Regions from separate parts of the Homo sapiens genome. Here region 2 is linked to region 1. Evidence: fine-mapped expression QTL. A gene starts in region 1. The other region holds a variant in brackets. All regions are shown on one strand. Distances are from middle to middle.

What was found. PIP is the estimated chance that this variant, and not a neighbour inherited with it, causes the effect.
Region 2: its variant is fine-mapped to the expression of BEND2 in whole blood (TOPMed, PIP above 0.99).

What each region holds. Positions count from the first base shown.
Region 1 is chrX:18,219,600-18,222,517 of GRCh38, forward strand. It overlaps BEND2 (BEN domain containing 2), which reads right to left and starts at 1,287. Exons shown (of 14, transcript NM_153346.5): 1 at 1,127-1,287. The coding sequence starts at 1,151.
Region 2 is chrX:18,251,554-18,254,471 of GRCh38, forward strand. All of the region lies in intron 11 of SCML2 (Scm polycomb group protein like 2), which reads right to left. Among named protein-coding and RNA genes, the nearest start is that of BEND2, 32 kb to the left of the region's middle. The variant G/A (reference allele first, on the strand shown) is at 1,143.

The sequences.
Region 1 (2,918 bases):
TCAATTCTTTAGACTCAAAGCTCTCACCCAGTGGGGTGGTTCACGCCAGTAATCCTAGCACTTTGGGAGACTGAGGCGGGAGCATTGCCTGAGCCCAGGAGTTCGAGACCAGTGTGGGCAACATGACGAAATCCCGTCTCAACAAAAAATACAAAAATTAGCCGGGCGTGGTGGTGCACGCCTGTAGTCTCCGCTCCTCAGGAGGCTGAGGTGAGAGGACCGCTTGAATCCAGGAAGCGGAGGCTGCAGTGAGCCGACATGGCGCCCCTGCACTCCCACCTGGGCACCAGAGCAAGACTCTGTCTGAAAACAAAACAAAACAAAACAAAACCAAGCAAAAACAAAAACAAAAAACAACAACAAAAAACCTCTGTGAAAGTCTGAGTCATTCCTCATTCCTCGCCCCCCCATACCCCGCCTCACCAAAAAGAGAACAGCTGAAAAAGGATAAGCTCGTCCCAGAAAGTCAGCATCAAGTATCTAATAAGCTTCGAAATCTCAAAATGTAACCCACGCGGGCACCCCGGGAGAGGCGGCGGGTACCACCCAAAGCACCCCCTCAGAACACCCGGAATTTGAGGCTGTGCCCCAGCCGCTATGCCAAAACGCTGAACAGGGCTGTGTTCCGCGGCTGCCCACCAGGGAAAACCAATAAATTCAAGAAAAAGTGCGGCCGCATAGATCTGTATCGCCGGAGCCCGGCGTCGCGAGCGCCGAGATTGTTTCCCAGCCACTCGAGGCTCCGGAAAGAACCGCGGGCCAGAGGGCAACCAGGCCCAGCCTCTTGACGCACTCTCGGCACAAGCCCAAGTCACCCCAACCCTGAGCCACCAAGAGCCACGGAGACGCCATGAGCCTCAGGATCACCTCACGTCTCCGGGACATCTTGAGCCCCTGAGACGACCTGAACCCTGGGCCATCTCGGTCCACCACGCCAAATTTCCCACCGGCGCGCTGAGCAATCGGCGGCAGATGGCCAATACCCAGAGGCCGCCCCCCGACACGCCCCGGTCAATGACTAGCCAATCCTGCCGCCCCTGAATGGCCACCTAAGTGGGTGCCATCCAGACTCTTGACAGAACTTGAGGCCCAAGCTAGCGGGCCAGTTGAGGCGAGGTCACTTTACCCTGTTCCTGGGTCCTCTCTGACATCGTGAGATGGCGGGGTCTGGCTCTGAGGCCCGAGACCTGAGGCCCGAGACCTGAGGCCTACGTCTGCGCCGCGGCTCTGAGGTAACTGCTTGGTAACTGTGTGGTAACTGCGTACACTCGTTGTCCGAGGCACAATGAGGCCCGGGCAGGAGCCTGGACCACGTCTCCGCGGCTGCGCAGTAGCGCTTGGCATGCGTGCGTGACTCCTGGGGGTCAAAGGGCCTCGCCCTCTCCCCCACTTTTGACCTACTTTCTTAAAGAGTCCCTTTTACAAAAATATACATATGTATGTATATATATATTTGTACTATATATGTGTGTGTGAATATATGTAGATATAGATACAGAAGTAGAGATAGAGATAGAGATAATGAACTGGAAGCCAACAGTGTAATTCTGCTCGTCCCAAAACGCACATCATAAAAAAAAAGTCCAATGTAAGAGACTTTCTAAATCTTCCTGCGGGACTCTCAAAGGCAGCCCTTCCTTTGCCGCACTCGGGGAGAGCCGGGAGGGAGGCGATCCGCCACCAGCCAAATCAGGGCCTTTCCTCTTAACGACCACGCGGCAAGGGGGCCGGGCCCTCGCACACCTCGATGGCCTCCCCCACTCCAAAGGGACTCCGATTTCGCAGGATCTCCCAACTTCCGCCTCTGTTCCCAACACCCTACGTGTTTCTCTTCCTCCTCGTTCAGACCCTCTAGTGTTTTCCAGGTTGCTTCCTCATATCCGATACCGGCTTTGGGAACAAATCCGAAAACAAGCCAACTTTGAAAATGTGCCCCTAATAAATACCTAGCAACCCCTCCCCTCCTTCCTGCCCCCTCTAGTAGTCTGCAGTGTATTGTTTCCATCTTTGTGTCCCTGTGTACCGGATCTTTAAGCTCCTGCTTACAAGTGAGAAGATTCGGTATGTGGTTTTCTGTTTCTGTGTTAATTCACTTATGAGAAAGGCCTCCAGCTGTGTACATGCTGCTGCAAAGGACATGGTTTTGTTCTTTGTTATGGCTGCATAGTATTCCATGGTGTATATGTACCACATTTTCTTTATTCAGTCCACCATTGATGGGCACCTAGATTGATTCCATGTCTTTACTATTGTCTTCACATCTTTCAAAACCTCTCTCGGTACTACATCTGTTCGAATAATACCTCCATCAAGACACTTTCCTATAGCCCCCTGGTAAGAAGGATCCCACAGCAGGTAATCTTCACGTCCCTATTAGTATTTAAATTACTTTGCCTGACATTATAAATCCTCGTCAACATGCCTCTCTCCTAAGTTCCTGGAGGACAGCACCATGTCTTATTTATATTTGAACACCACCTCCCTCACAAGATTCTAAGAATTAAATGTTATAAAATAGAAAGCACCCAGTGCCTGGAATTTGGGATCCATTTCTTCACTGTGTCAGTTACACAATGACTCTTGTGACTGTGTGTCTCCTCATTTGGGGGAAGGGTAAGAATTTCTTTACTTGTGAGAAGCAAAGGTGTATATTGTTAGGTAGAAACACAGACTTGTTTTGCTATCGTTCCAGAGTGTACATATGTGTAGGAGGATGCATAGAGAAACTGAGGGCTGAAATGGATACACTGTGCTGGTTACCAATGTGTTACCTCTCACCTCCAACTTCACCCACTTTTGCCGACTCTGTGAAAATGGATGTGGGCCCTTTAAATATTTTTCCCTTTGCCAGTGACACAATTTAAGCCTTTGGCAGTAGAAGGTGCTAAAAGGAGAATGTAGGAGGAAAGAGTTTTTTT
Region 2 (2,918 bases), 32 kb after region 1:
TACTGGAAAAATGCAAATCACACCATAATGAGATACCATTTCGCACCTGCTAGAATGGGTATAATGAAAAAGATGGACAATAACAAGTGTTTAAAAGGAAAAATTGAAACTTTCATTCACTGCTGATGAAAATGTAAAATGGTATAACCTCTTTGGAAAAGTCTGTCAGGTCCTCATCAAGTTAAACAGAGTTAACCATATGACCCAACAATTCCACTCCTAGGTTTGTACCTGAGAGAACACGTATCCACACAAAAACTTATATACAAATGTTCATTGCAGCAGCATTCCTAATAGCCAAAAAGTGGAAACAATCCAGAAGTACATCAATTGATAAATGGATAAACATAATATAGCCATACAATAGAATATTATTCAGCCATAAAAAGGAATGAAGCACTGATACATGCTACCACATGGGTGAACCTTGAAAACATAGGGTGGGCACAGTGGCTCACACCTGTAATCCCAGCATTTTGGGAGGCCAAGATGGGCAGATCACTTGAGGTCAGGAATTCGAGACCAGCCTGGATGACATAGTGAAACCACGTCTCTACTAAAAATACAAAAATTAGCTGTGTATGGTGGTGTGCACCTGTAGTCCCAGCTACTCAGGAGGCTGAGGCAGGAGAATAGCTTGAACCCAGGAGGCAGAGGTTGTGGCGAGCCAAGATCACACCACTGCACTCCAGCCTAGGCAACAGAGCGAGACTCCGTCTCAAAAAAACAAAACAAACAAACAACAAAACACATTATGCTAAGTGAAAGAAGCCACACACAAAGGTTGCATATTATATGATTCTATTAATATGAAATGTCTAGAATAGGAAAATCTATAAAGACAGAAGAAAGTCAATAAATGGTATCCAGTGGTGAGGGGGAAAAGACATTGAGGGATGATAGTTAATAGGTATGGGATTTCTATTGGGGGTGATGAAGACAGTGGTGATGACTGCACAACTCTGTGAATACACTTAAAAAATACTGAATTGTATACTTCTAAAAGGGTGAAATTATGGTATGTGAATTATATCTCAATAAAGTTACTATAAGAAAAGCATCCTCAAAGTATAGCAGTCATAGGAACTAATAAAATCCAATTCCAGAAGGGAAGAACCATTCTAGTCTAAACTGAAGATTTC[G/A]TCATATTTTTTCCCTGTAGGAATCTGCTGATTCTTGGCACTACAGTGAAAATAGAACTTGACACAGGCAGAGGGCCATACCTAGGCAAAAATAAATCAAAAAAGATTTAGCAGCTTCACACAGCTGGAGTGACAAATCAGAAACTCAAACTCAGCTGGTTTTCCCCCATGGGATATTTGCCAAGTTCTGGAGCTATACAGGAAGCTGGGGAGTTAGGCTGAAAACTCTTAAAAGGCACGCTGAAATCTCTCACAGTCTCATGATGCTTAAGAAATAAAGACCCACCAGGGGGTCTTTATTTTATTGTGTGTTTGTGGCAAACACACAAGCCACCTAAACACAGGTGCAAAGTTGTGATAATACATGAGGAAGAAGGCTAAAGAGCTGAGCAGCAAACCCCTGAAGAAGGGAAGTACAATTCCCCAGTCTTTCAAGGCTAAGGAGCTAGGGAATTCCCAGGTTCTCAATCAAAATCCTGGGAAAGTAACACCTGAAGAATAGCGAGGAATCAGGAGATAGACTGAGTCTTACTAAAACTGCTATTCAGTCCCAACCCAGCTCAATCACTGAATGGAATGAGCCCTCCTTCTTTCTGCTTAAAAAAGAGGAAACTTTTTAAGGTAGAAATCTGGAGCTTCTGCAGATCTTTTATATACAATGTCCCATATACAAAAAAATAGTGGTAAACATGCAAAGAAGTAAGACCATATAACCAACTATTGAGAGAAAAACTACTGGTGTCAGTAGACAAAGACTATAACGCAATTTTGATGAATATGTTCAAGAAAACAGGAAAAATGGACAGAAAAGATCAAAGAATAAAAAATTTCACCTAAGAATTATAATCTATTTAAAAAAGCAGAGAGCTGATAGGAAAGTAAACTGAGGCAACCACTTTGAAAAACTGTTTGGCAGTATCTACTAAAGCTTAATCTATGCATTTCCTGTGACCTAGCAATTCCCTCCAAGATAGATACAGGAACAGAAAGACGTGTATAGAATGTTCATGATAACACTATTTATAAGAGTACAAAACATAACACTATTTATAAGGGCACAAAACAGAAAGCACTCAAATGGATACATACCATGGTAGCATATTTATACAACAGAATATTATACAGCAATGAGAATGAATGATCTAACTATATGCAACAATACAGATGAAACTTACAAACATAATGATAGGCCAAAAAAGCTAGGCACAAGAGTAAATGCTGTATAATTCCATTTCTATAAAGTTCAAAAATAGGCAAAAGTAATATATGGTACTAGAAGTCAGGACAGTAGGTATCCTTGTGCGAAGTGAGGGGTAGTAGTGGATTAAAGGGGGTTTGACACATTAGCAGTGCTTCTAGGGTACTAGTAATAGCTACTTTTCCAACCAGTGACTGATTATACAGGCATGAAAATTAATCAAGCTACATTCCATGTATAATTTTCTCTATGTATACTATACTTCAGTAAAATGTCTTCAAAATTACTGCTAAAATATGCAAACACTAGATTTGTCAGAATCAAAGTCTCCTAAGAAGAGCACTCTATCTTAAACTATTTTTGAGTCACTTATTTTAAAAAATGTAAGAGAAATGGGATACTAGACGTGAAATCTTAGTAATAACCTCATAGCATTTATATGCAACTTCTTTAACTACAAGCTGACTTAAGAAAAACATAAGAGTTCCAACTCAAAGCCATTTTCAAATGGCTAAATTAAGCTTTCTGTGACAGAAAATTAATAACCCCTAAAATAATGTAAAATATGTGGATTATTC